Linked DNA regions of Homo sapiens. The protein of the gene in region 1 purifies or fractionates together with the protein of each later gene. This does not show direct contact. Each region holds a gene or a part of one and is shown in the gene's direction. Other genes may lie near its edges. The genes, in order: UBN1, ASF1A, SMARCA4 and CABIN1.

The links.
Region 2: the proteins of UBN1 (region 1) and ASF1A purify together in Homo sapiens (affinity purification with mass spectrometry; 7 studies listed by BioGRID and IntAct, with this or other methods). This does not show direct contact.
Region 3: the proteins of UBN1 (region 1) and SMARCA4 purify together in Homo sapiens (affinity purification with western blotting; 2 studies listed by BioGRID, with this or other methods). This does not show direct contact.
Region 4: the proteins of UBN1 (region 1) and CABIN1 purify together in Homo sapiens (affinity purification with western blotting; 6 studies listed by BioGRID, with this or other methods). This does not show direct contact.

What each region holds. Positions count from the first base shown.
Region 1 is NC_000016.10:4,871,468-4,878,493, forward strand, and holds part of UBN1 (ubinuclein-1), read left to right. Parts: intron 1-514; coding exon of another isoform or gene 515-518; exon of another isoform or gene 519-701; intron 702-720; coding exon of another isoform or gene 721-751; exon of another isoform or gene 752-811; intron 812-1,416; coding exon 1,417-1,467; intron 1,468-1,563; coding exon 1,564-1,606; intron 1,607-2,743; coding exon 2,744-3,967; intron 3,968-5,403; coding exon 5,404-5,644; intron 5,645-5,917; coding exon 5,918-6,007; coding exon of another isoform or gene 6,008-6,138; exon of another isoform or gene 6,139-6,385; intron 6,386-6,471; exon of another isoform or gene 6,472-6,582; intron 6,583-7,026. UniProt on the Homo sapiens protein: Acts as a novel regulator of senescence. Involved in the formation of senescence-associated heterochromatin foci (SAHF), which represses expression of proliferation-promoting genes. Binds to proliferation-promoting genes.
Region 2 is NC_000006.12:118,904,126-118,909,671, forward strand, and holds the end of ASF1A (histone chaperone ASF1A), read left to right. Parts: intron 1-1,526; coding exon 1,527-1,703; intron 1,704-3,276; coding exon 3,277-3,489; 3' UTR 3,490-5,046; downstream 5,047-5,546. UniProt on the Homo sapiens protein: Histone chaperone that facilitates histone deposition and histone exchange and removal during nucleosome assembly and disassembly.
Region 3 is NC_000019.10:11,027,004-11,034,029, forward strand, and holds part of SMARCA4 (SWI/SNF-related matrix-associated actin-dependent regulator of chromatin subfamily A member 4), read left to right. Parts: intron 1-780; coding exon 781-947; intron 948-3,726; coding exon 3,727-3,890; intron 3,891-6,286; coding exon 6,287-6,514; intron 6,515-6,763; coding exon 6,764-6,862; intron 6,863-7,026. UniProt on the Homo sapiens protein: ATPase involved in transcriptional activation and repression of select genes by chromatin remodeling (alteration of DNA-nucleosome topology).
Region 4 is NC_000022.11:24,006,306-24,014,313, forward strand, and holds the start of CABIN1 (calcineurin-binding protein cabin-1), read left to right. Parts: upstream 1-4,998; 5' UTR 4,999-5,062; intron 5,063-5,064; exon of another isoform or gene 5,065-5,423; intron 5,424-5,452; exon of another isoform or gene 5,453-5,608; intron 5,609-8,008. UniProt on the Homo sapiens protein: May be required for replication-independent chromatin assembly. May serve as a negative regulator of T-cell receptor (TCR) signaling via inhibition of calcineurin. Inhibition of activated calcineurin is dependent on both PKC and calcium signals.

The sequences.
Region 1 (7,026 bases):
CTTCTGGATCTTCCCTGGAGGAAGGGAAGTTGCCTCCAGGGTTTTGTTTTTGTCATTTTTTGTCCCACTTCAGTTGATGTTTGGCCTCCCATCTCAATATGCACTTTCCTTTTTTTTTTTTTTTTTTTTTTTTTTTTGAGATGGAGTCTCGCTCTGTTGCCTGGGCTGGAGTGCAGTGGTATGATCTCAGCTCACTGCAAGCTCCACCTCCCAGGTTCACGCCGTTCTCCTGCCTCAACCTCCCGAGTAGCTGGGACTACAGGTGCCTGCCACCATGCCCGGCTAATTTTTTGTATTTTTAGTAGAAATGGGGTTTCACCGTGTTAGCCAGGATGGTCTCAATCTCCTGACCTTGTGATCTGCCCACCTTGGCCTCCCTAAGTGCTGGGATTACAGGCGTGAGCCACCACACCCGGCCACACTTCCTGTTTTAACATACAGGCTGCTATGAGCATTTGAGAGATGGGTTCATCTTGGGTCTTTCCTGATGTTCCTGAAGAAGTGTCATTTGCAGGTAGCAGGGCTGACTCCTTATTGGAACTAAGTGCCAGGCTTCCATCTCAGAGGCTACCTTGTACGAAGTCACTTCCTGCGAATGAAGTATTTGTGTCATACATGGGACAGAGAAAGTTAGCTGGAGTGATTTTCTTGATTGGACTCGAATCATCTGTTGTGCGGATAGATCTTGGAACCTTTGAAATTGCTGTCCTCTCTACGTAGGCTGGACTCATACGAAGAACGTTTTTGTTGAGTTTCTCTGGACAAAGACATGCTGGGTCACTCCACATTTTATTCCTGGAATGGAGGGACTAGGCAATAAGGAAAGTGCTGTGCCCTTTAGGGAAGCATCACCATGAGAGGTTTGAGGCAGAGCCATACATTTTCTTGGTAAAGGCCAGACTCAGCCTTTGGGCAGCCAGTGTGTCCCATTGAGATCCTCTCACCAGGAATTTGGCTCCCCAATCCATTGACCTTTTTTTTTGTGTGTGTGGGGGGTGGGTGGGCATGGTGGGGGGGCGGGGACAAAGTCTCACTCTGTTGCCCAGACTGGAGTGCAATGGCACGATCTCGGCTCACTGCAACCTCCGCCTCCCCGGTTTGAGCGAATCTCCTGCCTCAGCCTCCCGAGTAGCTGGGATTACAGGCGTGCGCCACCACGCCTGGCTAATTTTAGTATTTTTAGTAGAGACGGGGTTTCACCATGTTGGCCAGGCTGGTCTCGAACTCCTGACCTCAGGTGATCCACCTGCCTTGGCCTCCAAAAGTGCTGGGATTACAGGCGTGAGCCACTGCGCCTGGCCAGTTGACATTTAATGAGGGATAGCTACTGAGGACCAGGGACACTAGCAAAGTTCTGGAAGCAGAGTCCCAGCTTTCTGGGGCATGTACAGATGCCTGGTGTTCTGTGTCTTTCAGAACTCTGTTTAAGGAGAGCAGACGAGGCCATGGGCACCTGACTTCAATCCTGTGAGTGTCTTGGTATTTTCACATCTCGGGACAAGTGTTGTTTTTGGTCTCCTCTGGATATTCTCTAAACTTTTCTGTGCTCATTCCTTTGAACAGGGCCAAGAAGAAAGTTATGGCCCCTTCTAAAATCAAGGTGAAGGTGAGTCAGTTTGCTCGGGTCACATGTCAGCTATGCCCATCTCCCTACAACTATGCTCTGGAAACAGTCAAGTGACTGTGGAAGCTCATTGATCTTTGCTCGTCTGGGGACAGCTGCTCAGGATGACATTCTTGAAGTCATAACAGGACAGAGACCCAAGCCACTTAACCCCCCTCTAGCCTTGGTTCTACAAACAGTACCCAGCTGGCCCAGTTCCTGGGGTTCATGTGGGATTAAGTGGGATCTTCTTGGCAGCCCTCTGAGGAGTCAGTAGTCCCTGAAGGTGTGAACGTGTTACACTGTGATCTTTGTATGGAAGAAATACACTCTAGCCAAGTGCAGTTTAGCTTGGAGCCACAGCAGAAAGAAAAGGCGACTTTACTGAGCTACCAGGCAGAAATGGAGGGCAATATAGTGGCTGGAGAATAGACACTGTGAAAATTACCTTAGATGTTGCAGAAACCTCTCAATGTAGTAAAAATTGCTGTTTATCAACATTTTTCCCAGTTCTTAGTGTGGTGCCCTTAGCCATCCCTAAGCAGACCGTGAGAATGAGATGTGCAAATCATTTACTCCTAAGTATCTGTTGAGCTCCCACAATGTCCCAGACACACTGTATTAAGCACCAGGGATGCAGGAGTGAAGGATTAGACCCCATTCCTGTTCCCATGAAAAGCTCACTCTTCTTTGAACCCAGTCTGAGGAGATGGGTGCTGGGAAAAATCAAGAAGGGAAAAATAGCTGCTTTAAGGCAATTCTCATGCCATGCCTTGGTCTGATTGCAGCTAGGAGTGCGCTGAGACAGTGGGAATGCCAGTAGGCAGAGTATCTCTTCACGAGAGTCTTAACGCTTTTCAAAACAGAAGAAAGTTTCTCCTGGCGGCTTGTTTGTACTTAGCAACGAAGCATGCCGGGGTAAACCCAGCCCTGGCCAACCAGATACTCACCAGGGGTGATGAAGTCATGGCATCTAAAGTCAAGGCGGGCACAGCTCCTGCTCTGTCCCACCACTTGTCTTGTAATTATACAGGAAGGCCCAGTTTTTTTGACTCGAGTTCACATGTTTGTATCCTCACAACAGGCCAATGTTGGCATCTTTGGACCTTTCTAAACATCAACATTTCTGTTTTCCTTTAGGAATCGTCTACGAAGCCTGATAAAAAGGTTTCTGTCCCATCAGGACAGATTGGTGGCCCCATTGCTTTGCCCTCAGATCACCAAACAGGAGGCCTGAGTATTGGGGCCTCGAGCAGGGAGCTCCCATCCCAGGCATCGGGCGGCCTTGCTAACCCTCCTCCTGTCAACCTGGAGGACTCATTGGATGAAGACTTGATCCGCAATCCAGCCTCCTCGGTGGAAGCCGTGTCCAAGGAATTGGCTGCATTGAATAGCAGAGCAGCTGGGAACTCTGAATTCACACTGCCTGCACCCTCAAAAGCACCTGCAGAAAAAGTTGGAGGCGTTTTATGTACAGAAGAAAAAAGGAACTTTGCGAAGCCTAGTCCTTCTGCTCCACCACCAGCTAGCTCTCTGCAGTCACCCCTCAATTTTCTGGCAGAACAGGCTCTGGCACTGGGGCAGTCCTCTCAGGAGAAAAAACCAGAGAGTTCTGGCTACAAAGAGCTGTCCTGCCAGGCTCCCCTCAATAAGGGCCTGCCAGAAGTACATCAGTCCAAAGCTAAGCACCACAGCTTGCCACGGACGTCTCACGGGCCCCAAGTGGCAGTTCCTGTGCCTGGCCCCCAGGTCAAAGTCTTTCATGCCGGCACTCAGCAGCAGAAAAACTTCACGCCCCCATCTCCATTTGCCAATAAGCTCCAAGGCCCAAAGGCTTCTCCCACACAGTGTCATCGTTCCCTCCTGCAGTTAGTGAAGACAGCGGCCAAAGGCCAGGGCTTCCATCCCTCTGCACCAGCCACCTCAGGAGGCCTGTCAGCCTCCAGCAGCAGCTCTCACAAGACCCCAGCCTCGTCCTCTTCTGCCCTGAGCCATCCAGCAAAGCCACATTCAGTCAGCTCTGCAGGCTCATCTTACAAGAATAATCCCTTTGCCAGCTCAATCTCCAAACATGGGGTTTCTTCTGGCAGCTCTTCCTCGGGAGGAACACCAGTCCAGAGTTCTGTTTCTGGGAGCCTGGTCCCTGGCATACAGCCTCCCTCCGTGGGACAGGCCACCAGCCGACCCGTCCCAAGTTCAGCAGGGAAAAAAATGCCTGTTTCCCAGAAGTTGACTCTGGTAGCCCCTCCAGGCGGTCCAAACGGAGATTCCAGTGGTGGGACCCAGGGAGTGGCAAAGTTGCTGACCTCGCCGTCCCTAAAGCCCTCTGCAGTTAGTAGTGTGACATCGTCTACCTCCTTGTCAGTGAGTATCTGTCATAGCAGCCTGCCCTGCCCCACTCACAGGGGCCTTGGGGATGAGGTTGCTTGCCTTGCCCCGGGTGGAGAGTGAGATCTAAAACCACAGGTCAGGTAGGAACAGTGGGCTCAGACGTAGGAAGGGAGACTGGGCTCCCTGTTCTCAGGTATTCACTTTTCTGGTGACAGGAAGCCCAGGATGGCCTAAAGCTTCTTCTGAGGAGGGCAGAGGGACCTAAAGGATGGCCAGCACCAAGCACCATGCCTCTTCGGAGGCTGTCTGTGTGGCACAGAATGAGCAACAGCCCTTGCCTTCCGTGACCCCTTGCCTCTCCATCTCTCTAAAGGGGGCTGGAAATGCTGTCTTCTATCAGTTGAGTCATGTGGAGGTGTTCATGGACCAGGAATAGCAGGACCTTCTAAGAGTGATTCTGTTGGTTTTTGAAGGACAGAGTCCAATAATTAATGCATCTCGCTTGTGTGTAATCACAGCAGGTTCGGGAAGAGGGAGTGAGCATTTTCTTTTCTTTTTTTCTTTTTTTTTTTTTTGAGACGAAGTCTTGCTCTTTCACCAAGGCTGGAGTGCAGTGGCGCTATCTCGGCTCAGCGCAAGCTCCACCTCCCGGGTTCACGCCATTCTCCTGCCTCAGCTTCTTGAGTAGCTGGGACTACAGGCGTCCGCCACCACGCCCAGCTAATTTTTTGTGTTTTTAGTAGAGATGGAGTTTCACCATGTTAGCCAGGATAGTCTCGATCTCCTGACCTCGTGATCTGCCCGCCTCGGCCTCCCAAAGTGCTGGGATTGCAGGTGTGAGCCACTGCACCCGGCCTCTTTTTCTAATATATAAATGAAGTGGTTGCAAAGACAAAACCATAGAAAGGTCTGTTGGAGGTCTCACCTCCTTTCCTGCACCCACCACCTCTGTAAGGTAACTAAGCTCTTTAGTTTCTGGTTTATTTTCCTCTTTTTAAACAAAAGATTAATAAATATAAATAAAGGTATATATGTATGTGTGTGTATGTATGTATATAAATATATATACACATATAAATATCCATGAACATTTATGGATATCTATATTACATTTTTCCCTTCACAAAGGAGGCTTTTTTTTTTTGAGACAGAGTCTGGCTCTGTCACCTAGGCTGGACTGCAGTAGCGCGATCACAGCTCACTGCAACCTCTGTAGGAGACATATTTAATATCCTGCTTTTAAAAAAATTATGTTCCCTGGAATCCATTCCATGTTGGTTCATAAAGACTGTCCTGGATCCTGTCTTTGGGGCTGCAGGGTCGGAGGGTGCCTCCCAGGGCCATCTGACATGGATGTGTATGTCCTCCTTTGTGGACACACAAGGAGGATCCTTTGTGTTGCCAGGTTTGGTGTGAGTGAGCCACGAACAGGACTGGAGTTCTTACCGCTTGCTGTGTTTCTTCCCTAGAAAGGAGCGAGTGGGACTGTGCTGCTGGCCGGCTCCTCTTTGATGGCTTCACCCTACAAATCCAGCAGCCCAAAGCTGTCTGGGGCCATGAGCTCGAACTCCTTGGGAATTATAACCCCTGTCCCTATTCCTGTCCATGTGCTCTCCTTCAGCGCTGACTCCTCTGCCAAAGCAGGGGTCTCCAAGGATGCCATCGTCACAGGCCCTGCCCCCGGGTCCTTCCACCATGGCCTTGGCCACAGTAAGTGCTTCTTTGCTGCCTCTGGTCACTCAGGAACCTCTAGATTGTGGCCAGGGGTCCTGCTGTTGTGTACTCTGGTTCCTGTGTTTGAGTCTGGTGTGTGACTGTGGGGAACATCTCCGGGAACTGTGCCAAGCCCCCACTGCCCCTTTGGGTGTGGTGCCCAGACTGGCCTGGCAGGTTATCGGGGGCTTTTGGCTGCTGGAGCTGCTTTCCTGTTCCTGTCTTCAATGTGTGTGTTTTGTTCTTTTCTCCCCTCCTGTTTTCTCTCAGGTCTTCTGGCTGGCTTGCACTCCAGCCCGCCCCATGCAGCGCCTCTCCCACACGCTGCGGTGCCCACCCATATCCCGCAGAGTCTGCCAGGTAATCACCCGACGGTCAGTGTGCCACGCGCACCGTGTGCCTTTGCCCTCTCCACCCCTAGGTGCTTTGCCGCTGCCAAGGGTCTTGGTGTCTTTGCCTTGACGCTGTTGTTGTTTTGGTTTGTCCTTTGAGGCTGTGCTTTGTCAGTACTCAGGGTGACACGCACTTCTACTCTTGGGGTTTCCTCTGGTCCCCACTTGGAGCTGCCGCCAGGTCAGCCTCAGCCTGTGTGATCACAGGGAAAGTTGCGGGGGGCAGGGTGGTGCGCTTTTGTGTGCGGTGGAGGAGTTCCTAACCCTCGGCTTGTTTTTTTCTCTTCAGTTTAAAAAAAAAAAAAAAGGGAAGGTAATGGTGCATCTTCTCCAAGGGCTAATTGGGTACAACAAGGTCTTGGAATGCAAGCTGCTCCACTGTCAGATGTGATTGCTTAACAGAAGGCTCTCTAAACTTTGTTTCCATTAAAGGGAAAATCCAGGTAGCAGCCAGAGGCCACAGTGCAAGACTTTGAGAGGAGCAGCTTTAAATCTGTCCAAGTGTGAAAACTCCATCAGAACAGATTTGTGGGAGCACAGCAGGCATGTGGTCGGTGCTCCCCTTAGCATCTTCTGAAATAGGGAACTTCTAAAAGCCTCAGGCTTGAGGCTGCTCTGGTAGCACCTGAGAACTGGGCTCAGGTGCCCCGGGTTGGTACCTTTGCATTGAGTGCGTCTGCCTCACCCTATCCCGAGTCTGCGATTCTTGGGTACGCCTCCTGGAATTCTGGCATGGGAAGTCTCATGGTGTCTCAGCTTTGACCTAGCATTGTTCCTACTGTAGACCCGCTTCAGACATGACCAGGGTGCTACTTGGATAAGGGGAGAGCCGCTCGTATGGAAGCCAGCCGAGGTAACCCTGGCGAACTGGTGCCAGGTGGAAGTAAGGACCCTCTGTGCTGCACGTCTCCCAAGTTACATCTGCCTCATGATGTGCTGTGGCTCCCTGGCACCATGGCGCATTATAGTAAACACCAGAGGCCATAT
Region 2 (5,546 bases), on another chromosome or scaffold:
GCAGTGCAAATGATAGGCTAGAGCTGGGGAGATCAGTTAGAAAATTCTAAGCAATATTCCAGATAGGAGATGACATGAATTCAGCCTCCAGAAATGAAAAAAATGTTGAGACTGACTAGATGTAGGAGATAAGGGAGTGAAGCTGACTGAGGTTTTTAGCCTAGGACACTAGGTAGCGATTTTATGCCTTTTTGTATCATCTACCTGTGTTAGGCATACAGTAAACAACAGTCTTCAATTTTCACAAGCTAAGGCATTGGCTAAAGTGCTCATCTAGGCCCAGGAATATTCCTTGGTGCCCTGGCAACAGGTAAGCTAATTTGCTGGGACTTGATCCATTTACCACCCAGAATGGCTGCCTCAGATGCCTCAGCCATCACTGCCTGTGTTCCCCAGTCTGGCTCCTTCCATCCGGTCGTCTCATTACTACCTGCACCCTACCACGGATGGGGCCCTGCCCTTCGCTCATGCTCTTAGTCTAGTCTAACTCAGTTTACTTTCTGCATTCCTCAAGGTTCACCTTACAATAGCTTGATTTAAAACAAGGTCTTTGACATCTGCCTAAAGCAATCCTTACCTTCACTGGTTTCCACATTATGTGTGGTTTAAAGAGCATACTATATTGTAGAGTCTAGCAAAGTAACTATTCATAATAGAGGATTATTAATATTTTTTGAAAATCTGCTATGTAGCTATTTCCATCTCATTTTCAGTTTTGTTTTGTTTTGTTTGAGACGGAGTCTCACTCTGTCGCCAGGCTGGAGTGCAGTAGTGCGATCTCAGCTCACTGCAACTTCCACCTCCTCGGTTCAAGTGATTCTCCTGCCTCAGCCTCCCAAGTAGCTGGGACTACAGGCACCCGCCACCATGCCCAGCTAATTTTTGTGTTTTTAATAGAGATGGGGTTTCATCATGTTGGCCAGGATGGTCTCAATCTCTTGACCTCATGATCCACCCACCTTGGCCTCCCAAAGTGCTGGGATTACAAGTGTAAGCAACCACACCCAACCTCATTTTCAGTTTTATACTAATTTACTATTAGAATACCTGTGGGGGTGGTTGAGTGGGTATGAGAATATAAGTATCCTGGGTTGAAGAGGGAAACTGGTATAATAAACATTTGTGGCCAACAGTCTATGAGGAGATCATTTAATACTTACTAATTTAGGTCTGAAAATTATGACTGAAAAGGTTAAAATCAATTGCTGACTATAAAGGTTTTATAATGAATAGTGTATAATCCTTTCATGAACCACCATGCAGTGTAGCCAGAATTTCTTCCTTTTACAAGTGTAGTCATGCTTTCAAGTATCAAGGGTCCTTACATATATTGTGGCAAAACATGAACTGTCTTTTCCAGCTTATTATAAGTCAGTCAGAAATGAGCATTTTCCTTCCCAGTATGATTTCCAAGTTTTTCTTGTTGCATCCTCAACTGATGGTTCTAGGTAACTGAAACTCCAGTCTTGCCTGCCACTAACAGCCTTTTGTGTGTGTGTGTTTCTTTTCTTTTTAATTTATTCTAGGCTGATGCACCTAATCCAGGACTCATTCCAGATGCAGATGCAGTAGGCGTAACTGTTGTGCTAATTACTTGTACCTATCGAGGACAAGAATTTATTAGAGTTGGCTATTATGTAAATAATGAATATACTGAGACAGAATTAAGGGAAAATCCACCAGTAAAACCAGACTTTTCTAAGGTAATGTTCTTACTATTCCTTTTTAACTACTTTTACTATGCAATTTTTAAAGCAGTTGCTATTGCAATTTCATAGTATACTATTAAAATGGCTTTGAGATAAAATAAATATGAGGTCCTTATGCCAACTGGGCAAACTAATTATTGTTCCATTACCATGGATGACTTCAAACCCTACCTTCAGATGAGTCATTAGTAATTAATGTAGGCAGACACCTTGAGCATTTCTGGTTTAGAAAAATGAAAGTACCTCTTTTTTTTCTGAGATGGTTTCCTGCTCTGTTGCTCAGGCTGGAGCGCAGTGGCATGATCTCGGCTCACTGCAACCTCTGCCTCCTAGGTTCAAGCGATTCTCCTGTCTCAGCCTCCCAAGTAGCTGGGACTACAGGTGTATACCAACACGCCCAGATAATTTTTGTATTTTTAGTAGAGGTGGAGTTTCACCATGTTGGCCAGGGTAGTCTCCAACTCCTGACCTCAAGTGATCTGCCTACCTTGACCTCCCAAAGTGCTGGGATTACAGGTGTGAGCCACCACGCCCAGAGAAAGTACTTCTTGTAAGACAGGCCTTTGTTTATGGCTTTCTTTATAGCATTTCCCATATTGATTATTCCCATCATGATTCTGTTCATTTCAACCTTTAGGACAAACAAATGCATTTTTGTTGTACTAATTATTCAATGATGATATTTTTGTGTGTAACTCTTCCCAAAATTATGAAAGTTTTATGTTTGTTTTTCCTATGAATACGGTTATCTCAAAACACCTATACGCTTTATCTGCTATTCTTAGAAGTTAAACTAACAGTCTTAAATATTTCTGGTACTGAAAACAGCTTAAATTCTGAGTGAGAAGCTGAAATCTAGGATTCAGCATTCTTAAAGATACTTAGTATTTTCTGATTTTTCACTGGGAACTATAACAGTTTGGTAACTGGTGATTTTGTGAGAGTGCAGAGTAAATGAAGTTGAACCATGCAAGAAAAATTACATGACAATAGAATAGAATGTTCTCATGTTCTTTCTGATAATAAGGCCGGACTATTTTTCACCCTTGTTGTACCTTCCATTGATCCAATTTGTTATCCCTGAAGCACCTTATATAGCACAAAAGAAACAGGACTGTTTCTAAGAATGAGCCATCTTTAAAAGGTGTAGGAAACCATTAATAATAAGTTGTATTTGACAATTTTTCATTTTCCTTTGAAAACATACCAATCTAAACAACATAGTAGCTTGTTAAATAAAGCATCTTCTGAAGCATTCATTTTCAAAAATGAGGAGATTCTTTCTTTTAGAAAACAGAAGTATAGGAGTTAAATAGTTAAAAAGCCAGATGAATCCCCTCAGATTCTCCGTATCTTGTTTCTGTTAATCTAAAATAACTTCTTTGCTACAGCCCTAGTCGTTACATCTTATTAGTTATATTTAAGGTACTTAACTTGAATTATACCTTTGTATATGAACTTAGCCCTTTAGGAGTACTAACATGAACCATTTTATTAAGCTTCTATTTGTATATGGTGATTTAACTTTCTTAGTGTTTACCATTTGTATGTTTCCTTTTTCCTCTAGCTTCAAAGGAATATTTTGGCATCTAATCCCAGGGTCACAAGATTCCACATTAATTGGGAAGATAACACAGAAAAACTGGAAGATGCAGAGAGCAGTAATCCAAATCTACAGTCACTTCTTTCAACAGATGCATTACCTTCAGCATCAAAGGGATGGTCCACATCAGAAAACTCACTAAATGTCATGTTAGAATCCCACATGGACTGCATGTGACCACCTACCATCCCTTTAGTACAAATTAAGCTATTAAAAATACACAGAACTATTTCCCTGAAATTCCGTAAGTACATAGTCAAAACACAATGTGAAGAATTTGTTTAAAAACATCCTGTAGAAAGTTTATAAGAAAACCAGTATTTGAACAAATTGTGGAATATAAATACAACTATTTTTAAGTAATTTTTTTCTCTAATGTGTTATTTTATTTGTTCTGAAACTAATCTGATTAAAGCATATATATTATTTTCTTCTCCTTTATATGTAATGAAAGCACTTATAAAGAAACAGGAATCATTAGACCAGGTTGTAAAGATGTCTTGGCCTCCCAGACAGTCTTTGGACCACTATTTTACTGGCCTTTGAAAGAACAAAGTTTACTTCAACTAAAATGTTTCTTCCTGTGAAGACATATGGTATCATTTTAATTTAAGGGGCAGATTTCCATTCTTTTTTGGCATGTCCTTAAAAAGAGGATTTGAAATCAACTATATGCTACCAAGAACTTTAGGATCCAATTTTCCAAGCCACCGTGAAGCCTCTTATGGCTACTATTATAGTTCATGAGATGTTGGACAGCATTTGGTTTGTTTGGTAAGAGAAGAACAAATATGGCTAATTGTTAATAAGGTCCCCTGGCTATGGTTTTTGTTCTTATAACAGAGTTTAGAATATCAGAGCATTTCTTGAATCATACATCATTATTGTCCAGTGAATTCAAGACCAAATACAATATCGGGAGAAAATACAAACTCCCTGTGTTTAAGAATAGGGGATTACAATGGCTCAAATTGGTTCATTTGATTTCTAAAAATACCATGACCTTTAAAAATTCTTTTAATAGATCATGTTATTGGCAGTATTTATATAAAAACCATGGATTTAGAAAGGTATATTTAGCTTTATTATAATAGATACGTTACTATTTTGGAAATATATATATTTTCACACCTGTAGTACTCTTCCCCATTTCCTCTGACACTCATGCAGAATGAGATCAGGCATATTTGTGGTTGACATACTCTAGATAGCTTTTCCAACAAATCTTTGAAAAGCAATCTTGGAAAGGAATTCATTAACTAAATGGGGTAAAAGGTTTCTTTTTCTTTGAGAGTTAAGTCCTTCCTCAAAAAATTTTCTTATGCTCCATAAAATTGAGGTAGAATATTTTCATTATTCTTGCAGCTAAGCAAGACAGCCATATGATGCAGGTTATGCAGTGCCTTCATATCTAAAACTTTTATACTGCACTTTTTAAAGCTTTTATGTTGAGGAAAGGAAAAGGGCATTTGTCTAAACATGGATTCTGAGTTGTATATATTTCCTATCATTCTAAAAAAGTGAATTTGTGAAGCAAAGTTTTGCCAGATGTTAAACTTTGAATTTAATATACCAGATTATTAAAATATTGTCCATTAACTAGTTCATAGATTTTAAAAGTAAAATACTTCTGACTGTTAAAACTATATAAAGAAAATCTCATTTGTCTAATTGCAATTAAAAGAAAAATGTTAAAATATTAAAATGAAAATAAAAGCATTACTTTCCAACAAAGAGCTCAGTGGTTAATATAATAGGAACAACATATGTGCTTATTAGAAATAAAGCATATACAGCCAAATCACCAAATAAAGCCATTTACTGCTGAGTTTTTATTCTGACTAATTATAACAATCTATTTGTAGTGACATCAAAGGGTTAGGTTTTTGTATCAAGTTGTAAATGGACAACCAATTTTCACTTAAGCTTGGGACATGCGAACCATTACCTTTTGTTATCTTAAATTTTATCACTCTAAGAATTTTTTTAATGACTGAAAATAGATTTAGACTTCAAACATTAGAAACGTAAGAAACTGTAGCACATAAGTTTTTTTTCCACCCGGTCTAGCGTCATTTGCCAATACTGTATCTGAAGAACTATTTTCCACCCTTTTGCTCATAGTAAATAGCTGTGTCCTAAGAATATAAACATGAACCAATGACTTATGCCACTAAGATGGAGGCATTAAGGGTATTATTTGGGCTGAGAAAACATTCCAGAGGTCTGAAGAA
Region 3 (7,026 bases), on another chromosome or scaffold:
CCTTTGTAAGGGGCAGCCCAGACTCCTTTAAGCCCCTAATGGATGTGGATGCTGTGTCTAGATTTTCACCATTGCAAAGAACCTTGCTAAAAGCATTCTTCCAGCTAAAGCCTCCATTCAATTCCCCTGGGGTAGTAAGCCATTTGCAAGAAGAGAGGCGCCTAATGAAAACATCACAAATTCTTTTTGATGTGTTTTTTTATACTGAGTTGTGGAACAGGGTCCTGTACACCTGGCTTCAAGGCTGGGAGGCCTGGCTTGGACATGTGGTCAGCCATATCACGTCGTCCCCCTGCCAGCCTCAGTGTCCACATCTACAACACTTGGGGTTTGGCTGGAGAGAACATGAGAAGCCGAGGTGGCCCTTCCTTCTGGGTCTAGCAGAGCATGGGTGTCTCCAGTGTGGCATTTGCTCCTGGGGCTTCTTTATCGGGCAAGGGGACAAGGTCTGGCTTCCCGGAGCATCCCTGTTCCAGCCCCGTGTTGTGCCGGCCATGTGACTCACAGCTCCTCTCATTTTCATGAGTGTCTGGGTTTGACGAGAAATACATGTGCCACCCTGGTGATACGCCTCCCCAGCGAGGGTGGCCGGGCTTATTTCAGTTGGGGGAAATGGCTTTGCTGAAGCTTTGGGTGGGTGACGTCTGCTTAGGATGCATGTCTGTGCCCTTGAACCCGGCGCCTGGCCTGGAGGCGGGCGATGCACCTCCTGCCTTACCTGCCTGCAGGGTTCCAGGTTTAACATCCTGCGCCTTCTCTCCTGCCTCCTCCACACTCCAGGCTGGACCTGTACCGAGCCTCGGGTAAATTTGAGCTTCTTGATAGAATTCTTCCCAAACTCCGAGCAACCAACCACAAAGTGCTGCTGTTCTGCCAAATGACCTCCCTCATGACCATCATGGAAGATTACTTTGCGTATCGCGGCTTTAAATACCTCAGGCTTGATGGTGAGTATGAGCCAGTGAGGCGTTTCTTACAGGGTTTTGTTGTTGTGGCTGCCACAGAAGCTCCTCACTGGCATTCCCTCCTGTGAGGCAGGGTGAGGCCCAGGCGCTCTGGGTCCAGTGGCCAGAGTGGGCCTAGCCACAGGCTGAGCATCTTGGGCACTCGGCACTGGGACAGGCCGTGGATTGGACGCCGGGTGTCCTGACTCCTAGGCTGACAGTCTTTCCACGACAATGCTGGGCGCACTGGGGAAGGGGTGCCCTGTGCACTTTTAGCTGGAAGTGACAGAATTCCATACCATGTGGACACAGGAAAGAAAGCACCAATAGGCTTACATAGCTCTAACCCCAGGAGGTTAAACATCCTTCAGGCACAGCTGGATCCAGGCATGCAGGTGATATTGGAGAGACTTTTCTCCAGCTCTTTGCTCTGCCTTCTTCCATCTTGGCTTCCTTTCCACCTGCTCAGTGTCCCCAACAAAGGCAGGTCCCAGGCTGGCTCTCATTTAGCTGCTGTGAGCCGCATGCCCATCCCTGGGCCATTCGTAGCAGCCCAGTGACTGCCACCTTGCCACAGGTCAGGCCTGGACCTGGAATCAGACTCTGTGGTGAGCACGGAGGGAGGGAAGCAAGCACTGCCAGGCAGGAGCAGCAGCTGCCGTAGAGAGGCTCTCAGCCCAACCCCCTGCCCTGCGGTCCCTGATGGGAAAGGTCACCGCCTGTGTTTCTGCGCCTGCCTGCCCCAGCACACGGGAGCTCAGGGAGGAGAGGCTGTGAGATGCCGACAGGGCACGTGAGACATGTCTGTCAGTCCCAGTGGGTCAGGGAGCCCTGGAGTGAGTTCTTCGTGGGAGTTACTAGAACTGGGCTTACGAGAAACACGAGCATGAGCTGCTGAGACAGACACGGCTCAGCCAGTTTGTTGTTCCCTACACGACCTCCCAGAGCCTTTGTTGAAGCTCCTGTGCAAGGTCTGTCTCACAGCAGGACACCCCAGACCTCCATACCCCTTGTCCCGTTGATCACTTGGACCTGTGTTTGCTGGGCCAACCTGCCCAGGTGCCACCCGGAGTGTGCCCTGTGTGTCCCTCCAAACTGCAGGTCCTCCCCGGGGTTCTGTCCAGGACCACTCTACAGACACGAGTCTGTTGCAGGGGTCTCCCCGGCTTGCCTTCTTCCTTGGGGGCTTCCCACTTTCAGCTTTGAGGCTGAAAACCAAAATCCTTCAGGGTCCTCATGGCCGGGCCACCCCCCACCCTTTCCTCTCCTACGGTCTCTCCAGCGGCTTCTCCCGTCCTCGAGAGGGCCAAGGCTTCCTGAGGGCCATCCCGTCTGTGTCGTGTCCCTGACTCCCCCAGGAGAGAGCCTGGTTCCCACCCATCCCAGTGCCCTTCTGCCTACTCCATAAGGACAAGGACTTTGGTCAGTTGAACTACAGATGTGTCCTCTGCATGTGATGTGGTCATGGCCACAGGGCCAGAGAATCCATTGCGAGTAGAGGAAGGGTAGGAGCTCAGTGAAGTCTCCTGAGACTGCATCTCCCATGGGTGGGCTGGCATCTGGGAGCCGGGTGGCCCCTCACCTCAGCCCCTCCTCCGAGCTGGAGTAGCAGGGGCACATCTGGTGCCTGAGAGAGGGTGGGACGGCAGGTGGATGGCCAGGCTACTGTGGGCTTCTGCACCGTGCCTGGGCATGTGTAGGCTGGTGGCAGGAAATGGCCAGTTTTTATTTCTTCTTTTTTTTGAGACGGAGTTTCACTCTTGTTGCCCAGGCTGGAGTGCAGTGGCATGATCTCAGCTCACTGCAACCTCCGCCGCCTGGATTCAAGCGATTCTCCTGCCTCATCCTCCCTGGTATCTGGGATTACAGGCGCCCGCCACTACGCCCAGCTAATTTTCTTGTATTTTTAGTAGAGACGGGGTTTCACCATGTTGGCCAGGCTGGTCTCGAACTCCTGTCCTCAGGCGATCCACCCACCTCAGCCTCCCAAAGTGTTGGGATTACAGGCATGAGTCACCGCGCCCGGCCTGCCAGTTTTTATTTCATCACCAAAATGACTTCAGTGTTCAGGGGCACCTCTGTCCGAACTCCCAGCAGCGCAGGGAGTGTTGACATTGCCTTAATGCCCACAACGCTGAGGGCATCGTGGGTTGTCACCCAGGAGACCTGCTCTGGCTCCTTGACTTGGGTTTTCTGGGGCATGGGGACACTGATCCTGCCAGAAAGGACACGAGCCCCCTTTATAAGGTCTCCATGCTTTTACCGTAGAAGATTCTCTTTGTGAACCACAAAACTTTTTGAGACAGGGCTGAAGGCAGGTGCACCCACAGTCACTGTCCACCCACCCCCAGGTCCCTTGTGTTGCGAGCGGCGGTGTTGCCGGCATTGGCCGCTGTGTCTTCCGCTCCCCATGGAATGGCACAGGGTAGAGTAGAGGAGAGAATCCAGGGCTGTGGTGGTGGTGGCTGTGCTGACGCTGGACGCTGTGGCCTAGCTGTGGGCTGGGTGCTGGACTCTGTGCTCCAGGCCCACCTCCTCTAGTTCTCCCAGCGGGGCCTGTTTTCATTTCTGGGATGTGTGGAGAGACGTTTTGTGGTGAAACACTGGAAATCCAGTTATTCGCCAGTGGCCCACAGGCCCGTGTGGAGAGTGCGGAGCCAGGGATCTGGGGATGCTGGCAGGTGCTGATCCTGCTCCTGCTCTCAGAAGCAGGTGTTCCTTGGTGTCCCCACTCTACCCCTGAGGTCACCCCGCTGACCCTGTTCTCCTCTGTGCCCGTCAGGAACCACGAAGGCGGAGGACCGGGGCATGCTGCTGAAAACCTTCAACGAGCCCGGCTCTGAGTACTTCATCTTCCTGCTCAGCACCCGGGCTGGGGGGCTCGGCCTGAACCTCCAGTCGGCAGACACTGTGATCATTTTTGACAGCGACTGGAATCCTCACCAGGTAAAAGCGGGCCGGGCCCCAGGTCGAGGAGAAGGAAGGGGGTGCCTGCAAAACCTCGAGGAGACGGCCCTGGCTTGAGGGTCCTCCAGCCTCCTCCACATTGTCTTGGACCCCAGGAGCCGGGAGGAGCTGCACCCATATCTCCATAGGTCATCAGGGAGAAAAGAGGCGGGGTCCTCCTGTTTCCCAAAATACAAACAGCCTTTCCCTCTGATTGGGAAAGCAGTGTATAAGCCATCCGTCGGTTTGGTTTTTCTTAAATCTTGGAATGGCACCCATGAGGAGGTGGAAAGTATCCTGATCAATCTGCGCCGTCACTGTGGGGCGGCCCCTGCAGTGTGCCCTGTGAGCACACACACTGGCGCTTGTTCAGACACAATTGGGGGTAAACTCCATGCCACTTCGTTTACTTCCTCCTCTTGTTCCATAACCATGTACCCCTCATGGGCCTCGGCATCGGTGGATACCAGGTCATGCTGTTACATAGCTACAAGAATTTGAAAATGAGTTAAACTTTTCTCTGTGTTTCATTATAAGACTGATAAGTTCTTATTGTTTTTAACATGTAAACACCAGTGACAGTCAGGAGTCCCTTTTCCCTTCCTCTCCAACCGTGCTCTCTTCTGAGCCTCTGCCAGCCCATCTGCCTTCGCACATGTATGTACTGAGATTAACACAGATGCGGCGTGGCCTAGCATGTGCCTCTTCCACCAAGCAGTGGGTGTCAACCGCCGAGTGCACATCGGAAGCTACCCAGCCATCTAATCGGCCACCAGGCGTCCCGGCAGATGGCCACCCCTGGACGTCTGCTCTCAAACTCTGGTTGGCAGGCATCCGTCTTTTCTGTTGATCAGCCTGGTCACCAACCCAGCAGGGTCCCTCTTTCTCTCAGAGTGCTTGTGCAAACACCCTAGGTCTGCGCAGCCCTCAGACATGGGGTCGCTCCACCCCAGACATTGTCCTCTTCGTGTTCTGGTTGCTACTGCCAAAGTGGTTTCACTCCTACGCTGGGGTGTGAATGTACCCTGCCCTTCCCTGCAGCGTGAGGGCAGCAGCGTTCTCAGTGTGTAAATTGTCGCTTGTCTGATGGGTGAATGCCGTGGTGGTCACTGGTGGCCCCTTTTACGATCAGGCTGGGGTGTAGCTTCTGCCCAGACCCTGGTGACCAGCCAGTTTCTTAGGAGGTGGTTGAGTTGTGTGTCCCCGTTGGCAGGCCGGCAGCAGGCGGAAGCTGCACCTCAGGGCTGGGGGCGCGTTGGGGAGGGCTGGCCCTGCCAGGAAGTGTGCTGACAGGGCAGGAGGGCTGAGCGGCAGACACAAGGCACTCCTGGTCCCCACCAGCTGTGGCCTCTGCCACCCCATGGGTGCCAGTCTTAAGTTTCAGAGCATCACTGGTACTCACCCTGGTCCTGCAGCTCCTGGGCCCAGAGACAGGATTTCGTGTTAGCCTCCTCGTACTGTGCTGGGGTGATGATAAAACTAACAACCCAGGCTGGACGCAGTGGCTCACACCCGAAATCCCAACATTTTGGGAGGCCGAGGTGGGTGGATCAACTGAGGTCAGGAGTTCGAGACCAGCCTGGCCAACATGGCGAAACCCTGTCTCTACTAAAAATACAAAAATTAGCCAGGCATGGTGGTGCATGCCTGTAGCCCCAGCTACTCAGGAAGCTGAGGCAGAAAAATCGCTTGAACTTCGGGAGGCAGAGGTTGCAGTGAGCTGAGATCGCACCACTGCACTCCAGCCTGGGCGACAGAGCGAGACTTTGTCTCAAAAAAAAAAAAAAAGAAAAAAAGCCCATCCACGGCACCTGCATTGTTGGGAGCTAACTGCACCAGTCACTGGGCCACACTCCTGGTGCTTATTCACTCATTCGAGGTATGCAGTAGCCACGGGTTGGGCCCCATGTAGGCTGAGGGAGTTTTGAGGCTCACAGAGGTGAGACCTGGTTCCGGTTCTGTGTGCACTGTGAGAGTGGCAGGGCCCACAGCCAAACCAAGCACTGCCACAACACGGCCGAGCTTCGGCCCCCTGTTGTAAATGGTGCTCGACTGTGTAGGTCCACGCTGTGGGGAGCTGTGCCGCTGCCACGGGAGCTGCTTGAGAATATAATCCCCTGGGGGGTTGGTGCTTTCTTCCCGAATATCTGTGGGGTCCCAATAAGGTAGAAGGTGGCACTTCTGGAGGAACGTGATGAGAGTCCCCTTCCCCCGAGGGACACATGGCGGCCCAGGCTCCACCAGCTCTGTTTTCATGCGGCGGCAGGTCAGGCTGGGCAGAATTGTCAGGCCGAGGGTGGCACGCACAGCACACCTCTCCAGCTAGTGTCAGAGGCCACCTTCCCTTTTATGACCTCCTGGGCTCCTTTGGGACTGACTGGCACCTCTTCCCCCAGGACCTGCAAGCGCAGGACCGAGCCCACCGCATCGGGCAGCAGAACGAGGTGCGTGTGCTCCGCCTCTGCACCGTCAACAGCGTGGAGGAGAAGATCCTAGCTGCAGCCAAGTACAAGCTCAACGTGGACCAGAAGGTGATCCAGGCCGGCATGTTCGACCAGAAGTCCTCCAGCCATGAGCGGCGCGCCTTCCTGCAGGCCATCCTGGAGCACGAGGAGCAGGATGAGGTGAGCCCAGCACCGGCCCCGACCCCTCCCCAGCGTGAATGGTGGACGCGTGAGCGGCTTTCATTTTTGTTTTTTTACCTTTTTTGCACTCTTATTTTTTTTGCATCCCTTTGGAGTAAAGGGAGTGTGGGCTGAACGGAAAGAGGATGAGTACTTGCTTTTTCTTTGAAGTGGTTTTTTTTTCTAAACTGCTGGTGAAAGACGCCGGATTGACAGCCCTGGAGACTGAAGTCCTCTATTTATCCACAGAGCAGACACTGCAGCACGGGCAGCGGCAGTGCCAGCTTCGCCCACACTGCCCCTCCGCCAGCGGGCGTCAACCCCGACTTGGAGGAGCCACCTCTAAAGGTGAGAGGGGTAGTTCAGTCTCCATGCCCATTCAATCCTCGGCTTCTCGGCTGAGACGGCCAGCAAGGGCCCTGGTCCCACGGAGCGTGCGTGTGCGTGTGCGTGTGTGTGCCTTTCGCTGCCGTGTGGGTCCCCATCCACCGCAGCCGTGCCGGGACCACCAG
Region 4 (8,008 bases), on another chromosome or scaffold:
TGGAGTATGAGCTTGTGGGCCTCCAGCAAGAGCTCAGTACCAAGGGCAGCCGCCACACGGGCCTGCCACACTGCCAGCCGGGGCAGTCTTGGAAGAGGTCGCAGCCAACGGCAGTGGGCTGGGAAGACAGGGCAGCTGGGGTTGGGGCTCAGCCCCATGCCCAGAGTCCCCCCAGAGGGCAGGTGGGTAGGAAAGCTTCACCTGCATCACCTCCGTCAGCACCAAGTCTTCCAGGGAGATCTGCTCCATTGCCAGGAAGGGCCTGGCCACCAGCACCCCCCAATCCAGGTGCTGCAGGGCTGGCATCAGCCTCCCCAACAGCCGCTCCAGCTGTGCAGCATCTGCAGGCTGTCCGGAGAAGTGGGGCAGGAGAGACTGGGCTGGGAGGAGAGGAGCAACTTAACCCAGACTCTTGGAAGCCTCTTGGGCCTCCTCTCCATCCCTTCCCGGCTGCCACTCATTAGTGATGTCCTCTGGGGCTCTGTGTTCAGAAGGTTTCTAAGGATTCATTCAGGCTTAGGGGAAGGAGTACTGTGATAGATTAGTTATGTCTGCTGAGGACAGTGGAAGTGAAGCTAATATGTAATATGTACCAACTGGTGCCTTCCATCTCTGGGGGTCCAGGCCCCTGCCCCAGCCTGCATGACAGGGCCTAGGAAGCTCACCTTGCACAGGTAGACATTGGTGGCAGGCAGCTGGATGGTGACATGCTTCCACGCCAAGTACTCATCCACGCAGGTGCGGGCTTGCAGCTCAGGTGGGTACCAGTGTCCCCGTATCTGGTACTTTCGACTCAGGTATAAAACGATGACCATGCTGTGGGCAGGGGGTGTCAGAGATCTTTTCTCCAGCCTGTCAGGGCCAGGTGGCTTCATTGCTCATACTCAGGGTGATTTGACCAGGTTTTCTCCCCACCTTCACCTTCAGGGGAGGACCTCCCCTATACTGCAACTCCCTCCAGGCAGTATCTCCCCACGACCAAACCACTCTGTTTCTCCATTTCCAACTCTGATCCTCCCTGGGCCCATGTTTCCACCTCCCCTCCCAGTTACCATACCATCCTGCCCTCTGTGCCCAGGCCCCACTCCCTGGCATCAGGGTCCCCACTCAGAGTGCCTGCCGTGTGGGCCCTGCCCAAAAGGTCTCCAAGTTCCCTTCCTAGTGCCCCAGAACACTAGGTGCCCATTTTCTATCCTCAGGTAAGCCCTGGGAGGTGGATACATTATTCCTCCCACTCCGTTTTACAGAGGAGAAACCTGGCACACAAAGTTCTGTGATTTCCCCAAGGGCATGGATTGAGGAAGTGGTGAGCTGGGATTGAATGTGGAGTCTCCCCTGGGTCTGCCCAGCTCCTAGGACTCTGAAAGGATGAGCTGGGGACATTTGGGGAGGAGCCAGCCTCAAGCCTGGGCCTTGCCCGCTGGCTTCAGGTTGTCCAGGTTTATCCGGGTGACCTACGTCCTTTCCCCACCTGGGCAGCTCCAGCTGGCTCAGACTCTAGCCAGGTTCCAGCCTCCAGCTTTAGCCCAAAGGTGCCCCTGGGTCCAGCCTCTGCATCGGAGCTACACAGGCTGAAATGAGGAAGGGGCCTCAGTGATTTGGAAAGATCTCCAAGCCAAGGAAAGATCTCCCCTCTCGCCTCTGCCTCCCCCTACAACTCTGAGCCCCAGAACCCAGGCAGATCCTGGCTCTGACCCTGGGTGGGCACCAGGTCACCATTACCTCTTTGCTAGTAGGAAGTCGCCATCTCTGAGGGCAGGCACCTTCCCCAGGGGGTTCACCTTCAGGAACTCAGGCTTCAGGTGCTCCCTTGGTGGGCAGAAAGGAGAGAAGGCTCAGTGTAGGGCCTGGTCCTTGGCACCCACTCCATGGGGCCCAGCCCAGCCACCTGGCTCACCCCAAGCCAACTCCACCATCCACAGCTCAAAAGGGATGTCATTCTGTCTTGCAAAAGTGGATAGTGTGTCAGGTCCAGGAAGAGCTCAAGCCCCATTGCTGCTCCTCTCACCTGCCCTCCCCAGAATTCTGGACCTCCAGGAGTTGCTCAGCCCTTCTCCACTAGTTCTGAGCTGTTTCCTCTCCATAGTCTGCTGTAGTGGGCCAGAGCACAGGGCAGATTTGTCTTCAGGGACTTTCTCTGGGCATTCCTGGGCAGAGAACTTCATCTTCTCTGTTAACTCTTGCTGATAATTCTCTGTAGCTAGGCACCTTGTAAAACCCATGTCCCAGAATGCCAAACCTGGAAATGCAATGTCAGCGCCGAAACTGCATTGAAACTGAATGAATGAGGTCCCCACCCTCTTATCTAAATATCCTATCAGTCTGTTGAATGTCAAAGTATGTAGGGGTGGTGTGGGGGAGCCTATAGGGAGTCTCCATTTCTGTAGCTTTCCACATGTTCCATGCAGAATTTTCCTCTAATGACCCTTGGACACCGTGGTGGTCACTGTTTCCCTGCATAAACCTTTGATGATCCTTATCTTTAGCGTACCAGTGAAACACCAAATTCAGATTTTCAGTCTGTGCAGTCTATGTAGTTAATAAAATCAATTTCTAATGGAATATGCCTGTGCCTGGTGTGTTTGTACCTAACCACTGCTAAGGACTTTCATTGATAGCTAGACCTTGGAGTTCCTTCCCCTGGACCCCTGACCCAAGTATTTTGCACTCATTCCTCTGCCAGTGTGTTTCATGGTGTCCTGCTTCCCAGAGTGCCTCAGGGAATGCTTGCATTGGATATGAATGAATCGTTGCGGTCACCATGGATGGGATTCAGGCCTAACTCTCACCAAGACCATAAGGCCACAGTCTTTGATATAGATTCCCCATGTTAAATCTGCCATCCTCAGTGTAGTGAGAGTGATATTGAGAGAGAAAAGTTAGGTAATTAAGGTGGGTCCTTGGTAAAACTCCTTTAAACAGAGGAACAGCCTGAAAAATCAGGCTTCAGGCACAGATAAGGAAACTTGCACAAACCTCTGGCTCACTCAGATAAAGGAACAATGCCCAACACAGAAACACCTTTGATCTTTGTGCCTAAGGCATGCCCACAGCTACTTTGATAAGGGAACAAGACCCAGCATAGAAATGCCTTTGTCCTTTGTATAACCAGTGGGCTTCCAGGAAATAGTCTCTTCTCCTTTTGTGGACATGTACACGGTGGGCTACAGTGGGTTCCAGTGGGCACTTTCCTTTCTTGGACGTGCTTTAGAATGTGAGCCTCTGATTGGTCCTGGGCCAGGCTATCACTTCAGCTCCTGATTGGTCCCTCAAGGTCCAGGGGCCAAGCTGAGTAGTGCTTTCTCCAAGACCAGTCAGTACATTCCTTCCTTTCCCAGTCCATAAAACCCCCTGACCCAGCCTCATAATGGGCAACCTGCTTGGGCCCCCCGCCAGCTGCAATGAGCTTTCTTCATTTGCTTATTAAACTTTTGCTTCAACCTTACCCTTTGTGTCCACACTCCCTAATTTTCTTGGTCGTGAGACAAAGAATTCTGGGTGATACCCCACAATGAGAGACTGGTACATTGTGGTGCACGGGCAAGACTGCAACAATATGTTTTCTGCTTGCTTGTTTGGACTGGCCTCTTCCTAACTCTCCAGAGTGCTCTCTCCCCACTGTGGCCCTGAGCTTTGCCTCACGGTAACACTGTGCTGCATGACACTCCAGCATGATCTGCATGTTTCTCACCTCCGGACCTTCCCCACACAACTTTCTTGCTGCTTGGACCACCCTTCCCACCTATTTTCAACTGTTTCTCTCCAGCGCATCTTTCATGATAAGGCTTGAGTGGAAGCTGTATCCGAGGCTGAAGGTTATCCATGCAGCTTTGAAACCATCTGTTTATGCTTCTGTTTACCCCCCAAATACTGTTTACCCCAATACTCAAAGTCAAGGTTGGTGACTCAACAATTTTCAGAACTTCTAGCTTATCAGTATAGCTTTATTGTACTGAACTGAGTTTTTCACCATGCTGTTACTGTCTTTGAGGTTAAAAAGCCCCCAACATTCACTCCTATTTGAATCATCTGTGCAAGACTCAAGCAGCTATGAATTCAACCACAGTGTAAAGTTCTTCCCTACAATGCTTTATTGTTATTCTAGCTCCCAAGAGAGTACCATCTTTCAGCCCAAGACCCTTGACAGAACCCCTTCAACTCTGTCGCCTTTTTTCATCTCTGGAATTCTGACACCACCCATGACCCCTCTTCTTGTTCATTTACTAGGTTTTGTTCCTTTTTTTCCTTTTGTTTCAATATCCTATTGTATCTGTTCCTTTTGGGCTTCACATCCTTTTTGGAAAGAGAGGCACAGGTAATATAATGAATGAGGATGCTCCTCCTCCCTGGTTCCCTCTAAGTCAAGTTTCTCCAACGCGCTGGTCTGCTTGGCTTTGAATGCGGCTCAACACAAATTCATAAACTTTCTTACAACATTTTGAGATTTTTTGGTGATTTTTATTTTTATTATTTATTTATTTATTAACTTATCAGCTATCCTTAGTGTTAGTGTATTTTATGTGTGGCCCAAAACAATTCTTCCAACGTGGCCCAGGGAAACCAAAAGATTGGACACCCCGCTCTAAGTGTTCCCCAAGTTTCCACTGTTTTCAGAGCACATGTCCCAGGTAATAACACACAGCCCATCATTTAGTGACTGCTCAGGGTGCAAGCTGTGGAGAAGAGAGTCCGACTACGAGCTGGTGCTCTAAGCCTCCAGCACGCTAGGACTGACGACGGGGATCCGGAAACAACAAGCTCCACTCCCGCAACACACACACACACACACACACACACACACACACACACACACACACGCACACGCACACGCGCACGCGCGCACACACGCGCACACACGCGCGCACGCGCGCGCGCGCCGCCCAAGGGTAGCCGTCTGCAGGGCCCCAGCTAAGCAGCCCGCGGAGAGCGAGCGGCGCGTGCGCCCCCGCTGATTGGCTGGCACAACCGGCACCGGAGCCAATGGGAGCACGCCTTGTTGTCAGGCGCGCAGCCGGACGGCGCGGTGGTCGGGACAGACTGGCCGTTGCTGTGGAGACGCCTGGTGAGTTCCTGGAAGGCTGGTTTGAAGGCGGTGCCGGGGTGGGGGTGAGGCTCAGCAGAGCCCGGGGCACAGGCCGGAGGGGCTGCAGGCGCGAGGCTGGGTTACGTGAGGAAGCTGGGGGTTTCGCGGGCAGCTTTAGAGCCCCAGTCAGGGAAACCGAGGCCGGGCTTCCTGGCTGCCTCGCGAGCCTCTTCATGGCTCTCGCCGCCGCCCTGAGGTGCCTAGAATGGGTTCCGGCCTCCGGGGAGGTTCCCAGTAACCGCAGGAGCCACCATTGATTTGGCGTCTGCTGGGTGCAAAGCCCAGCGCGCTAACCCTTTACTCGCGACCTTTCGCTTCACCTTCACAGCAGCCCTGCGAGGTGAGTGTTGTTATTGGTGCCATTTACAGGGGTGGAAACTGAGGCCGCGGGTAGGTGAAATGATTTGCTCCAAGTCACCCAGTGGGTGAGCGCGACTCCAGACTGAAAATTTTGACCGTTCTGCTTCACTGCCTCCCCGCAAGAGGCGGGCCCTGGCCAGATGGAACTCACCTGGCATTCCCAAGGTATCTGCACAAGTGGCTTTGGGAGTCACTTAACTCTTCAGGACCTGGGTTATTACAGGTTATAAGTGTGGGACCGTCGGATTCCATGTGGCTAAGATTCTTTCTATGTGATTATTGTGGTTAGAAATAGAATATGCTTAGAACAGTCTCGTTCAGCGGTCGGCAAACTTTTGTTGTAAATATATCAGTGTTTACATTGTTATATTGTAAGTATAATGAGTATAATAGTATTCATAATAGTAGTTTAGGCTTGGGGGGTCCATACTCTGTCTACTTAACTGTAGCGATGTAGTGTGGATACAGCCAAAGACAATACATAACAGACTAGCTGCGTCGCAATAAAATTTTAATTATAGGGACCGAAGTTTTAATTTTATATATTGTTAATATAATTTTCACGTGTCATGATTTTTTTTCCCAAATATGAAAAAATGTAAAAACCATTCTTTGCTCGTGGGCTGTACAAAAAGGGTGGGCTGGTTAGCTTGCAGAACCCTCATCTAGTACAAAGCCTCATACATGAGGGGAAACAGACTGAGAGACTGACATCTATGTCAAGTCAGTCACACAGCCAGGGCACTGCCACCACTGAGCTTAAGACATAGGCTTCCCACCTTCCAGGCCAGGAAACATCCCCAGTTATCACTCTGGATCAGGGTGCTGAGGTCTGAAGGTGTGCTACTCTTTATCGTGTTCTGAGGCCATGGAAACTATATTCTAAGGGGTTTGGAAACTTATTAGCTTAGACTAATAAGCCTGGTGAATGTGCTGCTATCTGAGGAAATGCAGCTGCTGGGCTGGGAGTCAGAAATGAATAGATATTTTTCTTTTTCATGATTATTCAATAGCTTTTGTGTGTGTGTGTGTGACGGAGCCTTGGTCTGTCGCCCAGGCTGGAGTGCAGTGGCATGATCTCGGCTCACTGCAATCTCCGCCTCCCGGGTTCAAGCAGTTCTCCTGTCTCGGCCTCCCGAGTAGCTGGGACTACAGACACCCGCCACCATGCTTGGCTAATTTTTGTATTTTTAGTAGAGACGGGGTTTCACCGTATTGGTCAGGCTGCTCTCAAACTCCTGACCTCAGGTGATCCACCCGCCTCGGCCTCTGAAAGTGTTGGGATTACAGGCGTCAGACACCGCGCCCGGCCTCAATAGCTTTTTTTTTTTTAAAAGCTCCTTTTAGTGAGTTTCTTGGATTTATGGTGAACAATACATAAATGGTTACCATCCTCACATTGCTTACAGATGATAAATATATAATCAAAATGGTTATTTCTTTTTAAGCTTTTTTTTTTTTTTTTTTGAGATGGAGTCTCGCCTGTGGCCCAGGCTGGAGTGCAGTGGTGCGATCTCGCCTCACTGCAAGCTCCGCCGCCTGGGTTCACGCCATTCTCCTGCCTCAGCCTCCCTAGTAGCTGGGACTACAGGCGCCTCTCACCATACCCTGCTAGTTTTTTGTATTTTTTAGTAGAGACGGAGTTTCACCGTGTTAGCCAGGATGGTCTTGATCTCCTGACCTCATGATCCGCCCGCCTCGGCCTCCAAAAGTGCTGGGATTATAGGCGTGAGCCACCATGCCCGGCCTCTTTTTAAGCTTTTTAAACTAATTTTAGATTTAGAGAAAAATTGCAACAATACAAAACGCTCTGTTATGTCCTTCACCCTGCTTTCCCTAATGTTAACATCTTACATAATCATACAATTATCAAGAACAGAAATCTAGTGTTGGTACAGTATTATTAACTACATTACAGATGTGATATGAATGTTACCATTTTTTAAATTAAGGTTGTGTTTTCATTCCAGGACCCTATCCAAGATCCCATGTTGCATTTAGTTATTTCTCCTTGGTCCATAACACTTCCTTAGTCTTTTCTTGTTTTCCTTGGCTTTGATGCTTTTAAAGAGTAGTGATCAGTTATTTTGTCTAACGTCTCTCAATTTAAAGGTTTGTCCAGTGTTTTCTAATGATTGGGGTGAGATTATGCATTGTTGGCCAGAACACAAAGACACATTATCTTTGTGTCTTTCTCAGTGCATCACATGGAGTCCAAGATATTGGAATGTCTTATTACTGGTGATATTTACCTTGATCTATTGGTTTACTTGGTGTCTACCAGGTTTCTACACCATAAAATTACTATCCCTTTCTAATTAATAAGTCTCTTGGGAGAGATACATTGAGAGGACACAAATTCTCGTTCTCCACAAATTTGCTCCCTGACTTTAGCATCCATCTGCAGATCTTTGTGGTGTTTGCCTAAAGGTAATTATTTCTCTCTTTCCTTCTACATTATTAAGTCAAGTTCTACTGAAAGGAGAACTACCCTCTCTCTCTTTTATTTATTTATTTGATTATTTATGTGTCAGTGTAGGCCATGGATATGTATTATATTCTATG